3 separate regions of the Homo sapiens genome follow, and all the other regions are linked to region 1. The links come from fine-mapping of genetic effects on gene expression. A gene starts in region 1. Each other region holds a variant in brackets. All regions are shown on one strand. Distances are between the middles of the regions.

Region 1 (8,169 bases):
CAGCCCAGCGAATGTATATTGGGAGCCTCAGACATGTGACCAGGGCCTTGTGGGCCAGAGGCAGCCAGGAGACCTTTTTTTTTTTTTTTTTTTTAAGACAGAGTCTCCCTCTGTCACCCAGGCTGGAGTGCAGTGGTGCGATCTTGGTTCACTGCAACCTCTGCCTCCCGAGTTCAAGAGATTCTTCTGCCTTAGCTTCCTGAGTAGCTGGAATTACAGGCGTCCATCACCATGCCTGGCTAATTTTTGTATTTTTAGTAGAGACGGGGTTTCACCATGTTGGCCAGGCTGGTCTCCAACTCCTGACCTCAAGTGATCCACCCACCTCACTCTCCCAAAGTGCTGGGCTTACAGGTGTGAGCCACAGCGCCTAGCCAGTGCTCTTGTCTTTTGAGAGCCCCCTTTTCTCTCACCTGATCTCCCTGCCCCCTATTTTCCCCTTTAGTCTCCTTTCCAGACGCTACTGAGTAGCTTCAGGGTCAGTCTAGAGATGCAATCCAGGTTGGGATCCTTGCTGGGAGAGCCCTTCCTTCCCTGGCTTTGTAACTCAGGGCCTTCTGGTGTGCACACCTGCAGGGTCCAGGCTGGGCCTGTGCTTCTAGCTTCTCTGTGTCTCTCCCTGAGATTGGAATCCTGGCTCTGTCCTCAACTAGCTTGAAGGGGGGCCCCCAGGAATGGCCCCTTCTGGATTTCATACCCTTGTGTAACCTTGTTTCACTTTTTAAAAGATTTTATTTAAAAAGTTTTTTTTTTGTTAGAGACAGGGTCTCACTTTGTTGCCCAGGCTGCTCTCAAACACCTAGCCTCAAGCAGTGCTCCTGCCTCAGCCTCCCAAAACACGCCCGTTCACTTTCTACCAGGGTTGTGTGTGACCAGCAGATGTGTTGGAAGTGATGGTGTGTCACTTCTGAGGTTAGGTCATTAAAGACGCAGCGGCTTCTATCTTGTGTGTGTTCTCTTTTTCTTGGGCCACTCGCTCTGGGGAAAGCCAGCTGCTGGGGCTTGAAAACACACACGCCTGGGAAGAGGCCGCACTGGTGAGGGACGGAGGCCTCCAGCCCACAGCTGTGGGAACGTGGGAATGAACCTTTTAGGAAGTGAATCTTTCGGCCCTGCTCTAGCCTTTAGATGACTCAGTCCTGGCAGCATCTTGATGGCAACTTCACAAGAGAGCCTGAGCCAGACCACCCAGCCTGGCCTCTCCTGGATTCCAGACCCGCAGGAGCCATGAGTTTCTTTGTTGTTTTACACATCAAAGTTTTGAGGCAATTTGTTACACAGCAGTATATAACTAATACACCAGCTGTAGGGCTTTGGGCACGTTCCTTAGCCTCTGCACCCCCGTTTCCTCCCTCGTGCCATGAGCATTGTAGAGGCGAGTGAGGAACACGTAGACGCAGCACAGTGCCACGCACATGAGGCAGCTTTCCAGCCCCTCCCGGGATGGTTGTGGTCATTTTCTTGCCCCTCCCTGGATGGACCGTGACCTCACAACGTCAGGCCAAGTTATTGCATTCTTGGCCTGAGGTCATCCATTGGCCATAGACAGAGGTTCTCGGCAGGAAAGGGTGAGATAAAGAGAGGGGTCAGTCTCTTTCCTCCAGCCCGGGTCGGGAGAACCGTGCTGGGCCAGGTGAGACATCCGCTGTCTGTGCGGTGTCCTGGGATGAGCCACTGGACCTGACCCATGGGGAGATTTGTCTGTGTCGCCAGAGGGCGAGGGGTTTCCTGGTCTAGCTTGCCTTGGGCTTGGCCAAGCATTCTGGCTGCCACTGGGGCCCCCAGGACAACTGAGAACTGTCCTTTCTTCTTTGACCTTCAGCTGCCCCTCTCTCCCCTGTCCCCTGGTGCCTGCTCAGATGCTTTCTTCTTGTGACCCTTGACCCTTGGCCCTTGGCCCCTGCCCCGAGGCTCCTCCACCCTGGGCTCCGTGTTCTAGAGTTCACTGTGTACTAGTTCCTCAAGCTGTTTGTCCTTCACTGCTTCCGATTTTTCTGTGCATTACTCAAGAACTGCATGGGCATGTGTCAGTATAAAAAAAAATAAAGTTGGCCGGGCGCGGTGGCTCACGCTTGTAATCCCAGCACTTTGGGAGGCAGAGGCGGGCGGATCACGAGGTCAGGAGATTGAGACCACGGTGAAACCCTGTCTCTACTAAAAATACAAAAAAATTAGCTGGGCGTGGTGGCGGGCGCCTGTAGTCCCAGCTACTCGGAGAGGCTGAGGCAGGAGAATGGAGTGAACCCGGGAGGCGGAGCTTGCAGTGAGCCGAGATCGCGCCACTGCACTCCAGCCTGGGCGACAGAGACTCTGTCTCAAAAAAAAATAAAGTTGGCCGGGCGTGGTGACTCACACCTGTAATCCCAGCACTTTGGGAGGCGGAGACAGACAGATCACTGGAGTTGGAGACCAGCCCCTGGCCAACATGGTGAAACCCTGTCTCTACAAAAAAATACAAACATTTGCCTGTGTGTGGTGGCACATGCCTGTAGTCCCAGCTACTCGGGAGGCTGAGGCAGGAGAATCGCTTCAACCCGGGAGGCGGAGGTTGCAGTGAGCAGAGATCGAGCCACTGCACTCCAGCCTGGGCAACAGAGCAAATTTCCATCTCAAAAAAACCAAAAACCCAAAACAAAAAAACACAAAAAAACATTATCGACATTAACAACTACAAGGCGCCCGGCTAATTGTATATTTTTAGTAGAGACAGGGTTTCTCCATGTTGGCAGGCTGGCCTCGAACTCCTCACCTCAAGTGATCCGCCCGCCTCGACCTCCGCCTCCCAAAGTGAGCCACCGTGCCCGGCCGTGAATGTGACTTGATAGCCCAGATTTCCTTCCGTGAACGCTTGTTAGTTGTGAAACTAGCAAAGTTGCGCCTCTGAGTTTACGCAGAGCCGGCTCCGGAATCCGAGTTCCGGGTTCGAGCACAGCTCCGCCGCTACCTCGGGCGTGACCTTGGCCGGAGCCTGGTCCCCTCTGAGCCTCAGTTTCCCGGTCTGGGATGCCGGAATGACAGCTCGCCCCCTGCCCCGCCCAGCCCCGCCCAGCCCCGCCCCGCAGGCCCTGGGATTGGTTCGCGCGAGGTCCCCCTCCCCAGGCGGGGTCGGGCCTCTCCCGCCCGCCAGGCCCCAACCCGGAAATGCAGCTGGAGCGGAGGCGGAGCCCACTAAGGCCGCGGCGGAGCGACGATGGGCGCGGCCAATGGGCGCGGGCGTCGGCTGCGGCGCGACGGAAGTCCTGCCCGGCGCCGCGCGGGGGCGGGGCGGCGCCGGGGGCGGGGGGCGGCGGGCGACGGGGCGGGCGCAGGATGAGGGCGGCCATTGCTGGGGCTCCGCTTCGGGGAGGAGGACGCTGAGGAGGCGCCGAGCCGCGCAGCGCTGCGGGGGAGGCGCCCGCGCCGACGCGGGGCCCATGGCCAGGACCACCAGCCAGCTGGTGAGCGCGCGGCGGCGGACTGGACGCGCCGGTTTGTTACCCTGCCGGGTCCGGCGGCCGCCCGGGTCCGGCGAGGCGGGGCGGCCCGGGGTCCCGAGGGCCGGGTGCCTCCTTACCTGCAGCCGGGCGGCCGGGCCGGGGATGGCGGGCGCCGGCCGAGGGCGCTGCTTGGCTGCGGCGGGGAGACCGGGCCTGGGTTGCGGCGGGCGGCGGCCTGGCCGGGGGCGCTGACAGACGCGCGGAGGGCGGGGGAGGCCGGGAGGTGTCACCCGGCCCAGCGGGGTGGAAGTGCCTGGAAAGTTTGTTTTCGGCTTGGCGCAGCCTGGAGCCGAGCCTCCAGGGTTACCTTTCGGTTCTGTCTGTAGAGGAACCGCCCTGGGCTTCCACCTGGAACGGGGTCCTTGGCGCCTCCGCCTGCGAGAGAAGCAGAAGGTGCAAGTTCTTGCTGAAAGCACCTGATGCTCCTGGGCCCCCTTTTCCAGATTCTTGATGACAGTGGTCGGGAAAACTCGCCTTTCACGGCCCGGCCAAGGGGCATTTGGGTGCTTTTGCTGCCCGTGGCTGTGCTCAGCGTTGTGGGAAGCCCCTGGGAGGCCGAATGTGCAGGATCACCGAGGGGAAAGTGAGCTTGACAGGTAGGAGGGATTTTAGGGGAAGGACCAAAACAAACCACTTGTTGGGTGAAATGTTTTGCTAAAAGTGTCGCTGGTGTTTCTATATTTTCTCTCTATCGCTAAAAGTATCCCTCGTGTTTTTATGTTTTCCATATGCTAAGTTCTACAGTCTGGGGACGACGGTTTAAAAATTTATGCCTTGTATGCGATGTGCAGTGGGTGATGGAAGAACGTCTACATGGCTTTAACATTTGATTTAAAAGGCAAATATTTTAAATGAAGGAAAACCCAAGAAATTTAATTGATCCCGTGTCTTCCAGGATGCGGCTTTTTTTTTTTTTTTTTTTTGATGGAGTCTCCCTCTCGACGCGCAGGCTGGAGTGCAGTGATGCGATCTCAGCTCACTGCAACCTCCATCTCCCGGGTTCAAGCGATTCTCCTGCCACAGCCTCCTGAGTAGCTGGGATTACAGGCGTATGCCACCATGCCCGGCTAATTTTTGTATTTTTAGTAGAGAAGGTGTTTCGCCATGTTGGCCAGGCTGGTCTGGAACTCCTGACCTCAAGTGATCTGCCCGCCTCGTCCTCCCAAAGTGCTAGGATTACAGGCGTGAGCCACCACGCCCGGCAGATGTGGCTTTTTGATAGGCGTTCTTGATCTTTTTTTTTGTGGGGCGGGGAGTGGGGGGTTGTGAGTCTGTTTGAGAACCTGAGGAAAGGTATGGGCCCTCTTCTGAGAAAAAGGCAGAGTGACGCTGAATTTTGTAACTACGTCAGGAGGCTCTTGAACTTTCTGCAGCTCACTCGTGGACTTTGTAGAGATGCGTGTTAAGGAAGAAGGTTCAGCTGAGAAAAATGTTGAAGGGATGCCTTTCGCTATTTCGACATGTGTGGCTGTACACCAGAGTGGCCCGGGTAACATAAAAACATGAATTAGGCGGATTGGCCAGGCTCAGTGGAGGCTGGGGCCGAGAGTTATGTCGAAGTTTGTGAGGTTAACCTGCACCCAGTGACAGTCATGGCGAAATTTGTGAGGTTAACTCGCACCCAGTAACGCTGTTCCAATGCAAGGTGTGTATTTGGTGTCATCCACGGGAAGAGGAAAGAGCAAATTTTCTCATGGCCTTGGCAGTTCCACATGATGGACATTTCATATCTGCAGTTTTCTTCGCATGAGATGGCTTTTTTGCACAAAAACACTGGAATCCAGTGAGCAAGAATGATAGAATGCAAGATGGATTTCCACATGAGGAAGTGTCACGAACGAGCGTTTTGCATCTGTCAGCTGGATTCCCCCATGTGTACGTATGTGAGAACATGCCGTGTTTCCTGTCTGTAATGGTAGAGGCAGCCCTGATCCTGGATTTTCACCTGAGGATGGATAGATCTTCAGGGTTCAAGTGGGTTTGCATCTGGACTTTAGGGTGGCCCTGTAGGCCCTGTGTGAGAAGCCCCCTTCCCAGTGAACTTTCCCTTGTGTGTCCGCGTGGACAGCCAACAGGGGGAGCAGTGCGAGCGTGAAGGCAGACAGTGGCCTGGCCCAGTCTGATGCTAAGTGGGCCAGAGGCAGTGAGTACCATTTCTTGATCTGACTACTCAAGACAGGCGCTTCCCTAGGTACTTTCACACCTCATTGCGAGGTAGGTGTTGTTCCCATTTTACGGGTGCAGAAGCTGAGCTGCAGAGGCGTTAGGTACCTGCCTCATAAGTGGTAGAGACTCCAGTGTCACCCTGCCCCTCACGTTCGGAGCCCCTGAGGGAGGGTCTGCCGGGCAGCTCAGCCCAGCACTCTGTAAGGAAATCTTCAGTGCCACTGCCCAGGATGTCTTCCCAGGGATTGGGCCTGAATGTCTTGACCATGCCGTGCTGGAGGTAGGAGGGGTGTCTTCATATGGAAGAACTGTACATATTTCTTTGGCAGATGGCTGAACTCTGTGACCCCGGGGCCTGTTTCAGCCTCCTGCTGTCAGAAAGCAGCTGTTTGGGAAGAGGCTGTGATTCGGCCTTGTTTGAGGGCCGATACTCTGAATGGGTGAGGCTTGAAATCCTCCCTTTGGAACAAAGAAACATGTAATGATTTTGCTGAAGGTAGAATTGGGGGACTAGGCAGAGTGGCCTCCTGCCCTCCCTAGGGTGGTTCTGTCTTTTGCAAAGGTGGCTGCATCCTTAGGGGAAGGTGAGGGGAGAAGCAGGGAGCATGGAGAGAAGTGGCTTTCGATTTTCTCTCTCCTTTTGGGGAGTTCCTCCTTATGTGGCTGGTCTGGTGCATAGTGTGATGTATTCCTGTACGCAACGTTGCCCTGACAGCCAGTCCAAGCTGAGTCTAGAGCTGGCAAGGTGAGCTCCCAGTGGTAAGAGGGAAGTGGTTTGTTCTGCTTTTCTGAGATGTGTTCTTATGAGAAGGATCCAGCAGCAGCCTGCAGAGATGTGGGGCCTGAAAAGAGGCCTTGGGCAGCTCTTCTTGACAGGTCTTGGCCCTCTAGACTGCCTTCAGCACAGTTTTGGGGAGAAACAGGGAGTGTTCCTTTTTCAGTCTATGCACTCATCCCCTGAGCCGCCTGACCCAGGGTTTAGATGCTCCAGGGCAGCTGATTGACACCGGTGGGAGACGGAGTCTGGCAAGCAGGTGATGAACTGGGAAGCGCTGCAGAAATGAGGGGGCAAGCGTGGCCAGTCCCTTCTGAGAGGATGTGTTTGGAAGAGAGTGGGCACTGGCGTGGCACTTTCCCCTTCTGAGGAAATGGACAGGATGCCACGTGGTGCTGCAGTTCTGTGTGGGGCAGGTTGTGGCTGCAGAGAAGCCCTGGGTGCAGAAACAGTCCCCCAAGCAGGTGCGAGGGCCAGGGTGCTCTATGCTGCTCCACACCTGCTGTGCGATGACATGTGGCCACTGGGCTGCCCAGCACAGTTGTTTAGAAAGCAGGTTCAAAGGGCAGTGTGCTGGGAGGAAGTGCTGCTGTGGAAACTGCAAGTTTTGGACATGAGTTGCTCAGGTCTTTTCAGCCGTGCATTCTTCTACAGCAGAATTGCATTATTCACTTGCTCAGTGTGATACCATGTCCTTTAAAAAATTATTTGAATATTGAGAACAGGTTGTATGTTCCGTCTCTAGCTGCTAGATCACAGGCAGGGCACATCTTCTCAAAGAGTAACAAGGCATGGGTTGTGTGTGTTCTCTTCTCTTAGTGAGGAGAAAGGCCTGTTTGGGTTCATGATGATTGTTGGGGTCTCTTTTCTGTACCTGATGTTGGTTGCACAAAGTCCGTTTCCATTCTCTTAGTCTAGACAATTTTCCTGATATTTAAACTGGAATTTTTGCTCCAAGAAATTCCAGGTCATTTAGAATGTGTTAAGATTGAGTTTCTGGGCTACACATCCCTTATAAGAGCACCTGATTCTGGTTTCTGTTTGTTTATTTATTTATTTTTTCGAGACAGTCTCGTTCTGTCACGCAGGCTGGAGTACAGTGGCATGATTTTGGCTCACTGCAACCTCCGCCTCATGGGTTCAAGTGATTCTCGTGCCTCAGGCTCCCAAGTAGCTGGGATTACAGGTGCGCACCACCTACATTATTTATTTATTTAATTTATTTATTGAGATGAGGTCTCACTATGTTGCCCAGGCTACTCAAACTTCTGGTCTCAAGGGATCCTCCCGCCTCGGCCTCCCAAAGTGCTGGGATTACAGGCATGAGCCGCCGCACCCAGCCTGGTTTCTGTTTAAAGAGTTGGATTATACAGGGACCCACAGAATTGGGAACTGACAGTACTGTAGAGCCTGTGTATGAAAAAGATGGACAAGCCTGACATTAGCAGCTCACTGTTGAGCACACGGCCCCCTGCAGAATAAACAAGTGTGTGGTTTCCATCTGATGAAGGTGGGCATGTAGTTCCTGGACAGTCCAGTGACTTCCGTCATTCCACAGACAAGATCAGATGCCCTCTCTACCAGCCACCGTGCTGGGACCGGCCCAATCTGTGTTTCAAGTCAGCTTGTAGCACGCAGGGATTCGAAATATTTAAAGATGAGGTTTGAAGGTAGGTCTGGAGACCAAGGACGTTAGTTCTGGAGGTCCCCGTCTCCTGCGTGTTTGCGGAGCTGGTGACAGTGCCCTCTCCC
Region 2 (8,169 bases), 34 kb before region 1:
CAGCTGGGACAGCAGGTGAGGTGCCTGGGTCAGTGCTGATAGGGCAGTCAGGCCGCCACTGACCTGAGCATCCTGCAGGGGGAGGAGGCGGCCAGGCGCTCTACATCGATGGGGACCTGAACCGGGGCCGCACAAGCCACTGCGACACCTTCAACAACCAGCCCCTCTGCTCCGAGAACTTCCTCATTGCTGCCGTGGAGGCCTGGGGCTTCCAGGACCCTGACACCCAGTGACGGCCTGTGCCACGGTGACTGAGCCGTGGTGGGGCGGTGGGCCGAGGCTGGGCTGCCGCCTCGGGCAGCAGAGAGCAGATGAAACCCCCATGTGGTAGGCAGGGTTGGGGGACGGCAGGACCCCATGGCCAAGCCTGGCGTTGCCTGGACCTGCTGCTGCCTCTACCTGGGGTTTGGGCTGGGCTTCCCCAGTCCACCTGCATCTGGGTCAGAGCTGGAGGGCCTGCTGTGCCCCCAGCCCCACCCAGAGCTGGCATAGGAAGTACCTTCCTCCTCCGTGGAGGCTTCCATAGCCCAAGGCCTTGGGAGTGTCTGGGTCTTGCTGCCCCTGAGCCTCTCTAGGCAGCCTGAGCCCCTGGGGTGGGAGTACAACGGCAGTGGGAACGTGCAGCTAAGGGTGGGCCTGTGGTGCCCCCTGCTGGTGCCGCATAGCATCGCGCCCTCCTGAGCAGGGCCCTGCAGCCTGGCTGGCTGGCGACTGAATCCCAGCGTAGATCCCGAGAACAGACTGGCACCCTTGGGCCTGCCCCCTGGCGGACCCCACCCCCTGTCCTGGGCGTTTGCCCCAGTTCCCTCCCCAGGCCTCCTGGGCCACCTCTCACATTAACCCTTCTTGGCTGCCTCTGAGGCTCCCCTGGGCTGCGTTTGGGAGCTGCTGGGTGGGAGGAGGAGGGTGGGATTTGTGCTGGGCTCCACCCCCAGGGAGGGTGGGAGCTGGAGGGGGATGTCACATGTCCTTGTGTTTCTGCAGAGCCTGAAGCTTTTGCTGGGCCTCCCTGCGTGTTCCCATCTGAAGAGGTAGCCCCGGGAGAGGCCCTCAGGGACCGACCCAGACCAGCAAGCTCCATTTCCAGGGGTCTGCCCAGAGAAGCCTGGACCCAGGGGGCTTCTCAGCTCCCCTCCCTTCCAGCCCAGGCCTCCTTGAGCTCCTGTAGCCTCTGCAGCTGCCCATTTCACCTCTTTGTCATTGCAATGACCTGGGGCCCAGGGTCACGCCCAAGCCCCTCTTTGTGGCATGCTCATCTCAGTGCAGCCCCAACTGCTTCTCTGCACCAGGCCCCGTGCCCTCCCCTGGCCCTGGCCACACAGCACCTCCTTGGCCACCTTGCATGGATGCATGTCCTCCCTCTGTCCCTCTTGTGGTGCTGTGGCTGGCCACGTGTCAGGGTTTTCTGTGAGCCTCTCACCTTACAGCCTTTGGGCCCCTGGGCCCCTGCCCTGCCTGAGCCCTGCGCTGGCCAGACGCAGGTAGGTGCCAGGGGAGGCCTTGCCTCTGGGCACTATAGGGGGCAGCCCCCTGCCTTGTGACCTCCCTCCATGCCCCATGACCTCCTTCAACTCGTCTTGAGGGTCTGGTCACCACGGAGGGGAGAAGGGAGACACAGAGGCCCAAGTGGCTGTTCTGGGACCATGGAAGCCTGGGTCACAGAGGCAGGTACCAGCAGTCCTGCCCCCACCCCCGTCCCTGCTGGCCTCCAGCCAGTGCCACTTGGAGTCCCCTGCACCGTGCCACTTTCCATCCCCACACCATTGCCTGCTCCTCCCATGGGGCTTTAGCCTCCCCTGACCATCTGCTCATGTAGCCTCTGACTGGGCGCACAGTGGTGCAGGAGGAAGGACCGGGAACCCTGTGTGGCTTTGGGCAAGCTGACAAACCCGTCTGGAACTCAGTTTCCCCAGCTGTGAAATGGGGCCAGTCCCCATGCCCTGCTGTCCTCCTCACAGGACTGTTGAGAGGCTCGCAGGGGGATGGGGTGAATCCCTCTCACGGGGAGAGGTATGGGAGGGAAGTCGCCACTCATCTCAGCCCACCGCAGCCCTCCAGGCCCCCGCCTGAGCCCCTGAGGCCCTCATCTGTACCGCCAGCTTTGGTGTTCATTAAACATGGTCTTGCTGCATCAACTCCAGGGCTCCAAGCTGAGTCTGATCTCTTCAGCCAGAGGGGCCTCCGGGGGCTTCCTGGGCCTACAGCCAAGCAGGTGTGGGAGGCTGCCCGCTGTAGTGCTCACCCACATTCTATGACTGGAATGCTGCAAGCCTCTTCCAGAGGGAGCCCTCCAGGAGCAGGGAAGTCATATCCGTGGACCATTTGTAGGTTTCCCTCTGCAAACTTCCTGAACTGGGTGGTGATTTTTCTGGCGAGTTAAGTCCAGCAGGTTCTGCGTGGCTGCCCCCAGGGGGCCCCACCCGGGCCTTCCAGTGATCTGGACCAGGAAGACGGATTGCTGCTGGGTCATGATTTCCACATCATGAGCGAAGTTCTTTGTTTTTTGTGTGCATGCAAAATATTGTTTCTTTAAATTTAATATCTTTTCCTAACTTTTCTACTAACCTAGAAGGTATGTGTGATTATTATCTTTTTTATTCTTATCACTGTACTTGTTAGTATCTGATATTAGGTATTCCCAAATAGAACATAATTTATTTTGTTAATGTTCTCTATTTCTTCTTGATTATTTATTAGCTTTGGATGTTAAAAATTAGCCAAAAGTGGCTGCTCTGCCTATGAAGTAGCCATTCTTTGTTTAAAAAAAAAAAAAGCCAACATTTGTTGAAACTGCATAATAAATTATCATTTGTTTTTAGAAACATTCAAAGAATTATTTTTTGATTTTTTTTTTTTTTGGGACAGAGTCACCCAGGCTGGAGTGCAGTGGCATGATCTTGGCTCACTGCAACCTCCGCCTCCTGGGTTCAAGCGATTCTCCTGCCTCAGCCTCCTGAGTAGCTGGGATTACAGGCATACGCCACCACGCCCAGCTAAATTTTTTTTGTATTTTTAGTAGAGGCAGGGTTTCACTGTGTTGGTCAGGCTGGTCTTGAACTCCTGACCTCGTGATCCACCCCCCCCTCAGCCTCCCAAAGTGCTGGGATTACAGGCGTGAGCCACCGCGCCTAGCCTATTTTTTAATTTTTTTGAATAGACCACTTTGTGCTGAATAAATGTTTAACATTTATTTTTAAAACAACAATTGCACCTAATTTAAAATAGTTTATTAAATGAATTCATTAAAGCAGATTATATGCCTTTGGGGCTTCAGAAAATCAGTTTAAGCAAAAGAACTTATGAGAGTAAGTCATTTGTACTTGAATTTTTTCAGAGTTTTAATGAACTAAAGTATTTTAATTTTTCTATTTTTGTAAGCCGCATACTTCATTTTTTGAGTTTTTCAGTGGAATTTGTTTTAAAACGTTTTGAAGATTTCAGAGGCCTTCATATTTCTCTTATCCACTTTCTGAACCCATAAAGCCTTTGCAGTCTCCTTGAGTAGTTTATATTTAGTAATTTAGTTGTGTACCTTTTTATTTTGAAGTAATTTTTGATTTGCAGAAGAGTTGCAGAGACGGTACAGGGTTTCCATGTACCCTCACCTTCCCCCAAGTCAATATCAAAACAAAGAAATAAGCATTGTTGCATTGCTGTTAACTAAACCACAGGCCTATTGAGATTGTCCCTTTTTTTTTTTTTTTTTTTTTTGAGACAGAGTCTCGCTCTGTCGCCCAGGCTGGAGTGCAGTGGCGCGATCTCGGCTCACCGCAAGCCCCGCCTCCCGGATTCACGCCATTCTCCTGCCTCAGCCTCCTGAGTAGCTGGGACTACAGGCACCTGCTACCACACCCGGCTAATTTTTTTATATTTTTAGTAGAGATGGGGTTTCACCGTGTTAGCCAGGATGGTCTTGATCTCCTGACCTCGTGATCTGCCCTCCTCGGCCTCCCAAAGTGCTGGGATTACAGGCGTGAGCAACCGCGCCCAGCCGAGATTGCCCCGTTTTTTTCCCACTGTCCAGGAATCGATTTAATTTTTACAGTTGTTTACTTTCTCACATTTTTACTAAGTCCAGAATATCATCAAACTCACAAAACCACTGGTCAAAAAAACCCAAATGGCCACTAATTAGGCAATACAGCACCTGCCTCAAATTTGGGTTCATATAGATTTTTTTCCTCCCTTTTTGTGGAGAACATAGTCTTGCTGTGTTGCCCAGGCTAGTCTTGAACTCCTGGACTCAAGCAATCCTCCCGCCTCTGCCTCCCTAAATTCTGGGATTACAGGCGTGAGCTGCTGTGCCCAGCTCATCCAGATTCTTGCTGGTTCTCTTTCTCAGCCTAAATGTCTTGTTTGCGTGGAGAAATTATCAAATGAAGCAGGAGTGCCAAACAAGCCTCATAGGCTCTTCACCCTACAACATCTATGTTAGGTAGAAAAGTATGTGGATTTTTAAAAATCATCTGGTATAAAGAGTTTTTAAGAACTATCTTCATCATCTTAGTATCAGATTGTGCTTGAGAAGTTAGGTACAATGTAATGTGATTCATTGCTAAAAACAAAATGCCTCCCACAATTGCAGACTCACTCATTTTACCAAACTATGGAATTTGTCAACACCTTTTCTTGGGACCAAGGAAGCAAAGTCAGTGGATACCGTGTCCTGTAGACATGTCACTTGTGATAAGGCACGGACAACATGAACTGG[C/T]AAAAACATTGGCATTTGGTCAAATGCTTATGAGCTAAGGATAGAAGGGAAAAAATAGTTGTGTGAATGATTTTACCTCTTAGTTCTTACGAAGGATGGTTATCGGGCTGGAAAAATGTTTATTGGACTGATGCTTTGGAGCCTCTCAATGAATGTAATAAAAAAAATGTGTAGTGAGCACAAATGTATGGATTTGCAGCACAATCCAACTTTGAAAATGTGAAAATAAGTGAGTTAGTGATATGTTTGGTTGGTGTTAATTTGAGTCCTAAATAAAATCGAGAACTGGTAAAAGAAGGTCACTGTGAAATAACTTGCTATGAGAAGGCTTAGAGGGATGGGAAGTCCTGGACGCCTCTTCTCCAGGGTGTTGGAGGAGAGAGGGAGGCGCTAGGTTGACAAGACCGCATCTGCGCATTGTGGTCACCAGCGAGTCTCTCCACTGAGGCGACAGGTACATGTCTGTCGCATTTGCAGCCGTGGCCGGTGAGAACGGCAGCATTCCCTGATCCGTCTTGTTTTCTTTTGTTCCTAGTGCCTGCTGTGTGGACAGCTACACTCAGCAAAGTCTTAGGGAGACTTAGAGGAGTCACCATGAAGAATCAGTGTCAGACGTTTCATCAGGAATCCCTGTCAAGGCCGGGTGTGGTGGCTCACACCCGTAATCCCAAGACTTTAGGAGGCTGAGGTGGGTGGATTGTTTGAGGCCAGGAGTTTGAGAGCAGCCTGGGCAGCACAGGGAGACTCCATCTCCACAAAAAAATAGTGAAGAACCCCTGTCGTGTGTAAAACACGAGTATCAAAAAACAAACTCAACCTTTCTCATTCAAAATTTCAAAATGAGTATTTCCTTTGAAAGTTTGCGTCTCTCTCTCTCTCTCTCTCTCTCTCTCTCTCTATATATATATATATATATATATAATTTTTTTTTTTTTGAGATGGACTCTCACTCTGCCACCTAGGCTGGACTGCAGTGGTTCAATCTCGGCTCACTGCAAGCCCCACCTCCTGGGTTCACACCATTCTCCTGCCTCAGCCTCCCGAGTAGCTGGGACTACAGGCACCTGCCACCACGCCCGGCTAATTTTTTTGTATTTTTAGTAGAGACGGGGTTTCACCCTGTTAGCTAGGATGGAATTATCTCCTGACCTCGTGATCCACCCGCCTCGGCCTCGCAAAGTGCTGGGATTACAGGCGTGAGCCACCGCGCCTGGCCACGTCAATATTAATGAATGTCTTTTTTTTTGTTTGAGACGGAGTCTTGCTGTATCGCCCAGCCTGGAATGTGGTGGTGCGATCTTGGCTCACTGCAACTTCCAACTTCCAGGTTTGAGGTATCCTCCTGCCTCAGCCTCCTGAGTAGCTGGGATTACAGGCACCTGCCACCATGTCCGGCTAATTTTTGTATTTTCAGTAGAGACCGGATTTCACCATGTTGGCCGGGCTGGTCCCTAACTCCTGGCCTCAAGTTATCCGCCTGCCTCGGCCTCCCAAAGTGCTGGGATTATAGGGGTGAGCCACCGTGCCCGGCCACGTCTTTTTAGTACCTTGTGTTTAATTGTGGATCGGTATAATACAAAGAAAAATAGAATGCCTTTTTTCTTTTGAGCCCTGCACAGATGCCCCCTCCCTGTCCAGTTCCTCCAGTGAGACCGAGGCTGCTGGGGGCCCTCCCTGCAGCTGCTGTGGAGCCTCTGCCTGCCGTCACGTGAGCTGCCTCTGCCCACTCTATGCTCCTGGGTTCCTCTTCCCCAGACTGGCCACGGGGGTGGCCCCTTCCTGCCAAGCCCTCTTTCTTTGCTCCTCTGAACACCTTCCTTCAGTACCTTCAGGGGACTGTTGGGGCAGCACCTGTCCCGGGTCTGAGAGGCCTCCTGGTCTGCTAGCCTGGCAGGAAGCTTGGCCCCCAACACAGCCACAGGCTCTCTGGCACCAGGTTTCTTTCAGTTCCTCTGAACTGAAAGCCTCTGTTTCCCGGCCTTTGCGCGTGCTATTTGCCACTCCTCATGCCTGGGCCCTAGTGTCCCTCCCAGGATTTCCCTGAGCTCCCCGCTGAGGCCGGGTCCGCGTTCTAGCTTCACAGCACCTGAGACAGGTGTTGGCTGGTCTCCCCACCCCCTGTCCTAAAGACTGTCAGTCTCAAGGGGCAGGAGTGCCTAGCACTGCAGAATGAACTGAAGCCCCTGTGGGTTGGTGTGCGCTGCTGCTGTGCGTCCAGGGTGATCAGAGATTCTCCAGGTGTGCTCCTGGGGCCTGTGGTGGCGGGACACCCCCTTCCCACACCCGCCACGCTCCCTGCAGTAACTCTTGCACTTACTGTAAGTGCTCGGACTGTCTTGTGCTTGACATTAGGACACACACTCAGGCCAGAATTGGGCAAGATTGTCCCTGAGCGGGGCGTGCAGAGCGCTCTGGCCTGGGAGGTGGGGCGCAGGGCTGCTTCCTCCTGCAGGCCAGCTCACTGTGGGGCTGGTGTCTGCCCAGAGCTTGGCCAGGCAGTGCCGCCCCCTCCCTTCCTGCCGCCTCTACCAGCAGCCTTCCCTCAGGCTGCTTTCCGGGCCTAGTCTGTGGCAGGTGTCCAGGGCACAGTCTTCCCTCTAGCCTGCCATGAAACTGTTTCATTTTTCTTTTAAAAAAATTGAAGTGAAATTGACATACTATCCAACCATTTGAACGACCCCAGACAGAGGTGGTGGTTGCATGAATGAGCATGTTGTGGAACCACCACCTCCAGTTCCATGGCATTTCCCCACTCCTAAAGGAAAACCTGGCCCCAGCAAGCAGCTGCTCCCCATGCCTCTCTATCTTATGACTTTGGGTTTCATTTTCATGTTTTTGTTTTTTTGAGATGGAGTCTTGCTCTGTCACCCAGGCTGGAGTGCAGTGGCATGATCTCTGCTCACTGCAACCTCCCCGTCCCGGGTTCAAGCGATTATCCTGCCTCAGCCTCCCTAGTAGCTGGGATTACAGGCACCCGCCACCACACCCGGCTAATTTTTGCATTTTTAGTACAGACGGGATTTCACCATGTCGGCCAGGCTGGTCTCCAACTCCTGACCATAGGTGATCCGCCCACTTTGGCCTCACAAAGTGCTGGGATTACAGGTGTGAGCCATGTGCCCGACCAGTCTGTGACTTACTTAAATACAGACTGGATCATGTTTCTCCCCTGCTCTATGCCCTCTCTTCATCTTTCAAGTCCTAATTCAGAGATCACCTCTTCTGCGACCCACCGAGCTAGTCCCAGCACCTCCTTCCCTTGTCCCCCCTGCTTCTAGGAACCACACTTCTGGTGCGGCATTGGCTGTACCGTTGGGGACGCTACTGCTCCCTGGTAGGCTGCCAGGTCTTGAGGGTAGGGACTCTAACTTGTCTTTGTCTGGCAGGGGCCTCACTCAGCACCTGGCACAATAGTAGGTGCTCAGGGAACTGAATGAATGGATCAGGGTCTGAGGCGG
Region 3 (8,169 bases), 750 kb before region 1:
GGAAGCCTCTCTCGGGCGCGGCCCTCCGGAGAGGAACAAAGGCGGCGCCCTGGCCGCGCTGCTACCGCCGCGCCCGCAAGGTCAGCGCGCCCGCCCAGAGCCCGAGACGTCGGCCCGTGCCCCGCCACTCACCTGCAGCCCCCGCTGCGCGCTCCGCCGGCCCGGCCCTGACCCACTTTCCGCCCCGGAGCGAGACGTAAACAATCCCCGCCCCCTGCGCCCATTGGCTCCGGCGGCGAGGGGCGGGCACACCTGTCTCGGAGCTTCGGGAGAGGGGGCGGGAGTCGGGTGACAAAGCTATTGCCGAGAGGTTTCAGGAACTGTCAGTCCTAATCCAACGTTCCTATTGGTCAGTTCCCAAGCGGTTGGAGACAAAGCTCGCGCGCACATTGGACCCGGGTGGGAGGTGGTACCGCAGGCCGCGTTGACCGGAAAGTAGGTCCGTGTCATCGTCTGCGCCGGAACCTGCGGGACCGGATCGAGAGCTCCTCCGGCAAGCTGATTGGCTGGGACAGCAGGATTAGGCCTGTCAAGAAGAGCCACGGGCGGGCACGCACTGCCCATTGGTTGGAAGGCCCTTCGCTCTAGCTGGGAGGCTGACGGCCCGCGGGCGTAAGCGGACTGCAGCCGCGAGCTCCTGGAGGCGGCGGGATGGAGGCGGCGGCCGGTGAGTGGCGGGCCAGGGTGCGGAGCCGCTCCAGGGCCTCGCTTGGGGCCCCGCCGCGTCCCTTCCCGGGGCGGCCTCGCTGCGTCGCGCGCCTCCGGTGCGACCATCACCGGCCGGCGTGGCTGGGCCGGGCCAGAGGCCGCGGCGCGGGCATTTTCTAAACAGGGTCGTTTCCCGCGTGCTCCTGCTTCGATGTGGAAGCTCCGTGATCTCGGAGGGCCTGAGTCGTGGAGTTGGGGGAGCTTTTAAAGTTAACTTTGTTGAGCACCGCGTTGTAGGCGGGCGCGGTGGCGCCTGTGGGCCCCGCTATCCTGGAGGTCGCGGTTGCAACTGCACCGCAGCCCGGGCAAGAGCGAGACCCTGTCTCTAAATAAATCACACGCGCGCAGTCATGAAAGTAAGACGGACGCCAGAATCTCACATGCTTTTAAGTTCTTTGTGGAAGTGGCGCTCTCAGTGTTCAGAAAAGTGTAAGTTGCGCGGGACAGAATTCACACCAGTGGGGACGATCCGTTCGCCAGATCAGCGCCGTGGGCCCTCCTGAGTAGTGGGAGCCGCATTTATCTTCTAAGAGACCTCGAGTCCGATACCAAAAGGAAAACATTCCTCGGACAGCAAGGTCTTGCAGCACAACTCTGACAGATTAGAAACCGAGTGCTGGAGTCTTTTGTTTTTGAGACGGAGTCTCGTTCTGTCGCCCAGGCTGGAGTGCAGTGGCGCGGTCTCGGCTCACTGCCAGCTCCGCCTCCCGGGTTCACGCCATTCTCCTGCCGCAGCCTCCCGAGTAGCTGTGACTACAGGCGCCCGCCACCACGCCCGGCTAATTTTTTGTATTTTTAGTAGAGACGGGGTTTCACCGTGTTAGCCAGGATGGTCTCGATCTCCTGACCTCGTGATCCGCCCGTCTCAGCCTCCCAAAGTGCTGGGATTACAGGCGTGAGCCACGGCGCCTGGCCCAGTGCTGGAGTCTTATTCCAGAGGAGAAGCCTGGAAAAGCCTGTCCTTATTATCAGGACGGATTTACTACAAAGTAAGGATATTACTGAGATTGATAGAAGCTTTTTTTTTTTTTTGAGACAGGGTCTTAACTGTCGCCAAGGCTGAAGTGCAGTGGCACGATCATAACTCACTGCAGCCTTGACCTCCTGGGCTCAAGCGACCCTCCCACCTCAGCCTCCTGAGCACCTGGGACCACAGGATGCACCACCCCGCTTGGCTACATTTTTAATGTGTAGACATGGGGTCTGAATACGTTATTGAGAGTGGTGCGGAACTCCTCCTGGACCGAAATGATCCTTCCACTTTGGCCTCTCAGAGTGCTGGGATTACTGGCGTGAGTCACTGCACCTAGTCCAAGCTTTCGTTTTTTTGTTGGGGGGAGACGGAGACTCGCTCCGTTGCCCAGGCTGGAGTGCAGTGGCACAATCTCGATGACGGCTCACTGCAATCTCCACCTCCCAAGTTCAAGCAGTTCTCCTGCCTCAGCCTCCCAAATAGCTGGGATAACAGGCACACGCCACCACGCCTGGCTAATTTTTTTTGTATTTTTAGTAGAGACAGGGTTTCGCCATGTTGGCCAGGCTGGTCTCGAACTCCTGACCTCAGGTGATCCACCCACCTCGGCCTCCCAAAGTGCTGGGATTACAGGCGTGAGACACCGCGCCCGGCCCCAAGCTTTCTTTAAACGGGGAAAATATGCACATAAAAATTCAAAAGGCCTAGGCTGGGCAAGTTGGCTCATGCCTGTAATCCCAGCACTTTGGGAGGCCGAGGCGGGCAGATCACTTGAGGTCAGATTTGAGACCAGCATGGCCAACATAGAGAAACAGTCTCTACGAAAAAAATAAAAAATTAGCTGGGCATGGTGGCGCACGCCTGTGGTCCCAGGTACTCTGGAAGCTGAGGCGTGGGAGGCTGAGGCACGAGAATTGCTTGGACCCAGGAGGCGGAGGTTGCAGTGAGCCGAGATTGCGCCACTGTACTCCAGCCTGGGCGACAGAATGAGACCCCCTCTCAAAATAAAAATATACATTTACTGTAAAAATATATTTGTCCACCACGTGGAATGATCTGGATTTGCTAACCCATAAAGCTGACCGGGACTCATTGTCCATGGAGAGCGCACTCGCCTTCCTCGGGGAGATGGTGCTTCGCCTCCTTCCTGCACTTCCAGCCCCACTGCCCCACCCGGCAGGCTCATGCTGACTGTGCTTTGCTGACAATCTGCTTAGGAGCTGCCTCAGTTTGCTGAGAAGTGAAATGTTCTTGGGGGAACCCTCAGGGTTGTTGTCCCGGTTCCTGACACTAAGGCCTGCATTTACCATGGTGCTCAGCCCAACACACCAGACAGGCACCATTCCCCCACCTCTGCCAACGAGGAGAGCCCCTGGGGGTTAACACTGCCGCTGGTGCCAGCACTGATGGCAGCATGGCAGTCAGGACCCAGGCCTGACAGAGTCCCCGGCAGCTACAGAAGTGCATGCTCCCTCTCTGCACGGGCCACTTCTGGTACCTCTTGGTGTTGAAGTAATTTAAGTCAGAACCCCTTTTATTGCCCCAGGGGTGACCGGGAGGCCGTGGTCTCGGGGCTTTGTGTTTGCAGGAGTGTGGGGCTGGGGCTGCCTTTTCCGCGTCCCCTGGAGGAGACCTCAGGCAGCCTCTGTAGGTCTGAGGACCCGCCTGCATGCCAGGTTCTCCGGGAGGCTTTGGACTTGGGAGCCTTTGAACGTGCCCTTGAGAGGCGGATCAGAAGGGGGCAGGTTTTACGCATCATGTGTTGAGCCCCTCACATGCACCCTCCAAGGACCTGTCGGGGATGGAGCAGCTTGCTGGAGACAAGGGGCATGGCCTCAGCGGTGGCGCCGGGGTGAGAATGCAGGGGTTTTGCCAAGGTATCTGCACACAGCAGCCCCTGCCGTGTGGCAGGGACAGGATGGGACCCTGGAAGGAAGAGGAGCTGGAGCTGTGCTGGAAGCAGCCGGCTCCCCTCACTTACCGCACATTGCAGGGACCGAGAGCCGGGGACGCTGGTGTGTGACAACGCGTGGTTGTTGCCACCCACCCTGGGCCCTCTGCTGCCTCTGCCGAGCCCAGGTGCACTGGCTGGGGAAAGAGTGGAGTCTGGTTCCCGTTAGAAATAGCAGGGGGCTGGCAGTTTCATGATCATGTGACCCACGTGTGTGTTTGCACACGCGCACGAAGGAACGCATGCACCCTTCCACACAGCGAGAGGAGTTGGGCAGTTTCCACTCTCAGCAGCGCCGCCTCAGGCAGGTGCAGGGAGTGCCGTGGTCTTAGAGGGTCCCCCCGGGTCTGGGGCTGCAGGGGACCTGCCTGGAGGTCTTTACATCGGGGCGAAGTGGGGCACGGGCTGCCTCTGGGTCTGGCGATTCACCACTGCCCCGCTCAGAACGTGGGTGCAAGAGGCAGTGGGTGACCCCGCGTGTGTGGGCACAGTGGGCACCAGGAGCCCTGACCTTCTCTGTCGTGTTTCCGCCCAGAGCCTGGAAACCTGGCCGGCGTCAGGCACATCATCCTGGTCCTCTCAGGAAAGGGGGGCGTTGGGAAAAGCACCATCTCCACGGAGCTGGCCCTGGCACTGCGCCATGCAGGCAAGAAGGTGAGC[G/A]CCCTACCCCTCACTGGGCGGAGCCCCGGGCAGCTGCCCGCATCCCGGTGGAGGCCTGGCGGTGCCCCCGGCCTAGGCTGTGCCGCTCCTTGCAGGTGGGAATCCTGGATGTGGACCTGTGTGGCCCCAGTATCCCCCGCATGCTCGGGGCGCAGGGCAGGGCTGTGCACCAGTGCGACCGCGGCTGGGCACCCGTCTTCCTGGACCGGGAGCAGAGCATCTCGCTCATGTCTGTGGGCTTCCTGCTGGAGAAGCCGGACGAGGCCGTGGTGTGGAGAGGCCCCAAGAAAAACGGTAACGGCCGGGCGGCGCGTCCGCCGTCCTGGTGAAGGGGGTTAGCGTCCGTGCCGGCCTCTCCTGTGGAAATGTTCCTCTTCAGCAGCCAGGCCTGTTCCTGGGGACCTGCACATGACACCCACGACCAGGCACAGGGCTCAGGCTGGCGGTGTGTCTCCAGTTGGGTCCGTGCTGCCACACAGCTGTCCCCAACTCCCGGTCAGAGGGAGTGGGGTCTGCTGAGACCCTGGCCATGGCATGCAGGGACCTGAGGCCCCAGTGTGGCAGGTCATAGGGGCAGAGCTGAGGGGGTTCTGGTGCCTCTGGAGCAGGTGGCATTAGACGCCCCCAAAGGCAGGGAGAGGCTGGTGGGAGTGAGGCGCAGGCTGTGGGTGCACCAGTGGGGCATCCACCACGGAGAATGTGGGTGCTCCCATGTGTGGGTACAGACGCCTGGAGGGTCCTGGCTCCGTGTTCTGATTTGGGGCCTCGGGGAGTCAGCGGGGGCTCTGTGGGCAGGGGCCAGACACTGCAGAAAGGGACGCTGTAATGGCCCCGGCCCCATCTTTGCACTCCTGCAGCGGGCCAGGGCCTCCCGAGAGCCTGTGATGGAGGCTGGTGGCAAGTGACACCTGATGGACTGCAGCCCCTCGGCCTGACCTGGCTGGTTCTTAGTGGCGCAGGGCCACGTGTGCAGACCTGCCCTGCCCTGACCGCCCCGTCTGCCCCGTCTTTGCAGCGCTGATAAAGCAGTTTGTGTCCGACGTGGCCTGGGGGGAGCTGGACTACCTGGTGGTGGACACGCCCCCGGGGACCTCCGATGAGCACATGGCCACCATAGAAGCCCTGCGTCCCTACCAGCCCCTGGGGGCCCTCGTGGTCACCACGCCCCAGGTAGCGCTGCGGCACCTTCCCGAGTCCCTGTGGGTGGCTTCCCAGAGGGCTGGGCGGGTGTCCCTGCTGGTGCGCCTGGCTGACCGTGGCCTCGGCTCCTGCCCCGCAGGCGGTGTCCGTGGGGGACGTGAGGCGCGAGCTGACCTTCTGTAGGAAGACGGGCTTGCGGGTGATGGGAATCGTGGAGAATATGAGCGGCTTCACCTGCCCACACTGCACGGTGAGTCCCGGGGGTTGCAGAGGGGGCGAGGCAGCACCTGGCCGGTGGGGGCTTTGGGCAGTGCTGGGCTCACCACCGTCTCCTAGGAGTGCACCAGCGTCTTCTCCAGGGGCGGCGGAGAGGAGCTGGCCCAGCTCGCCGGGGTGCCCTTCTTAGGTGAGTGTCCCAAGCTGGTGCTGGGGTCGCGGCCTCCCATTCCATCTCTGCCCTGGGCGGGTTTGACCTCCATGCCCCCAGTGCCCAAGGGAGAGGAGGGGACGGGAGCGGTTTCCTCCTCTCTTCTCGGGCCACACGCCATGCCGCTGAGACCTGCAGGTCATTCGCCCGCGCCCTTCTCAGGGCCCTCTCGGGTGGCAGGACCCAGCCTGCTGGGAGGGCCGCGGGTCTGGAGGTGGAAATCGTCTGGCAGCGCCTCAATCCCCTCTAAGGCCACGGGTGGTTCGGGTGCGTCCAGCTGAGCCAATGGTGGGAGTGGAAGGTGCGGACATGGCGCCACCGCCTCCACTGTGCCCTGCAGGCTCCGTGCCCCTGGACCCTGCGCTCATGAGGACCCTGGAGGAGGGCCACGACTTCATCCAGGAGTTCCCTGGGAGCCCCGCCTTCGCTGCACTCACCTCCATAGCCCAGAAGATTCTGGACGCGACGCCCGCGTGCCTCCCCTGACTAAGGCCACCTTGCAGCCGCTTTCCAGGGCCACCAAGGGCTCTGCTCCAGCCTCTCAGAGAAACAGAGGCCTGGGCTCGGTTCCCGGGCCCTGCAGGGGCAGGCCCAGGCAGCGTCAGCCGGAGAGCTTCTCCCCGACCAGCCCAGCCCCAGGATGTGTCGCACCAGCAGCTCTGCCTGGTTGGCCTGCAGTGCCGTGGTCTGCGTGCTCTGCAGCTGTGAGACGGGGGCGGCCTGGGCTCTCTTCCCATCCATGTTGCCTACCTGTGCCCCTGGCAGCCGCGTGTCCACACAGTTAGCGGAGCGCGGGACTTCTGCAGTCCTCAGGTGACCCCGGGCCTCCAGCACCCTGGGTCGCTGTCATCTGTGTTTAGCTCGGGGAGTGCCCCCTAAGGGGGCGAACTGACCTCAGGCATGTTTTGTAACTGTAGAGGCGCCTGCCATTAAACGTGTCCGCTGCTGTGGCGACAGATCTGATGTTTCTAGAGTCTTCTGTCCTTCGGGGTCAGACAGCACCTGCTTCTGTAAGTTTCTGGGCTGGACTGGGCCAGGCCGGCAGGTTCGTTCGTTCCGTTGTCAACAAGCCCCTGGGCCCAGGTGCTGATGTGTTTGCATCTTATTTGGTGGGAATTCGGGGAGATTTTGTGATAAACCTGACAGCTGGCCCCTTCGCCGTGGAAGAATGGCCTCCCTGGGACACTAAAGGGGCCCCTCCCGGGACAGAGACCAGAAGTCAGGTTGAGAAGGGAGCTCCAATCCCAGGGGTCCCCTGCACCTCTTCCCAGTGAGACCCGAAAGGAAAGCCCTTCCAGAAAGCAGAACGCGCCATTTTTCCCAAAGGAAGAGCTCAGCCTTCAGCAGGGGAGGACCCTGGAGGTGGGGGCCCGGAACCAACCCGGGCGGCCTCTGGGTGGGTGAGAGGGCACCAGGAGCACCTGGGCTGACGATGCCGGTGCCTGGGGGGGGCAGAGACAAACGCCCACGGCATCTGCAGGGGGTGCGGCTTCCCACGCAAGGCGGACGGCCCGCCCCGCGCTCCCTCCTCACCCCACCTCAGCCGCGCCCTGGCTGCCTGGACCACACCCCTCGGGGACACTGCCTGGTCCTCAGGGCGATCCCTCAAAGAGGAGGGGTGAGACGCAGAGCCCCTGGGGATTCGAGTTGGTGCCATCATTCCTGGAGGATGTTCTGGGGAGCCCGAGGGGCAGCCACGGGGACCAGGAAGACACATGGGTGTGGGGCAGTTGGCCAGGGCGGTGGCGGGGCAGGATCCAGGCGGGGGCCCTGGGCGTGGCCAAGCCGGGGAGGAGAGAGGTGAGGAGACCAAGGCGTACCCAGGCAACACCATCCTCCCCTCCCCTGAGCCAGGTGGGTTTTTTTGAGACAGGGTGTTGCTCTGCCGCCCAGGCTGGAGTGCAGTGGTGCAGTCTTGGCTCACGGCAGCCTCTACCTCCCAGGCTCCAGTAGTCCTCCTGCCTCGGCCTCCCTAGGACCACAGGCATGGGCCACCATGCTATGCTAATTTTTTTTATTTTTTGTAGAGACGGGGTCTCTCTTGTGTTGCCCAGGACGGTCTCTCAAACTCCTGGGCTCAAGCGATCCGCCCGCCTCGGCCTCCCAAAGCTCTGAGACCACAGCTGCGCGCCGAGCCCCCAGCCCCCTCCCTGGTTTCACGTTCGCAGTCACCCACTGTGCCTGTTAGATTCGATTGCCTTTGCCTTTAATTGATGACAGCTGGGGGGGCCGCCATGCCTTCCACCCCATCAGGCCCTTGCGTCTTCCAGCAAGTGCACTGGGCAGGCCCCTGAGGACACTGAGGACCTG

What was found.
Region 2: its variant is fine-mapped to the expression of PDPK1 in whole blood (INTERVAL, PIP 0.99).
Region 3: its variant is fine-mapped to the expression of PDPK1 in spinal cord (GTEx, PIP 0.98).

Annotation. Positions count from the first base shown.
Region 1 is chr16:2,534,700-2,542,868 of GRCh38, forward strand. PDPK1 (3-phosphoinositide dependent protein kinase 1) reads left to right here and starts at 3,322. Exons shown (of 14, transcript NM_002613.5): 1 at 3,322-3,437. The coding sequence starts at 3,414. RefSeq lists silencers at 2,829-3,138, 3,249-3,458, 3,469-3,598 and enhancers at 3,717-4,417, 5,481-5,570.
Region 2 is chr16:2,500,726-2,508,894 of GRCh38, forward strand. TBC1D24 (TBC1 domain family member 24) reads left to right here. Exons shown (of 8, transcript NM_001199107.2): 8 at 79-5,005. The coding sequence ends at 233. Among named protein-coding and RNA genes, the nearest start is that of ATP6V0C, 9.1 kb to the right of the region's middle. RefSeq lists enhancers at 1-186, 6,464-6,964, 6,965-7,465. The variant C/T (reference allele first, on the strand shown) is at 4,712.
Region 3 is chr16:1,782,370-1,790,538 of GRCh38, forward strand. SPSB3 (splA/ryanodine receptor domain and SOCS box containing 3) reads right to left here and starts at 202. Exons shown (of 7, transcript NM_080861.4): 1 at 133-202. It overlaps NUBP2 (NUBP iron-sulfur cluster assembly factor 2, cytosolic), which reads left to right and starts at 591. Exons shown (of 7, transcript NM_012225.4): 1 at 591-667; 2 at 4,168-4,286; 3 at 4,388-4,586; 4 at 5,308-5,462; 5 at 5,572-5,682; 6 at 5,769-5,838; 7 at 6,200-6,817. The coding sequence starts at 652. The coding sequence ends at 6,345. It overlaps IGFALS (insulin like growth factor binding protein acid labile subunit), which reads right to left. Exons shown (of 2, transcript NM_004970.3): 2 at 8,044-8,169. RefSeq lists silencers at 1-169, 670-879, 1,307-1,533, 4,598-4,766 and an enhancer at 380-529. The variant G/A (reference allele first, on the strand shown) is at 4,293.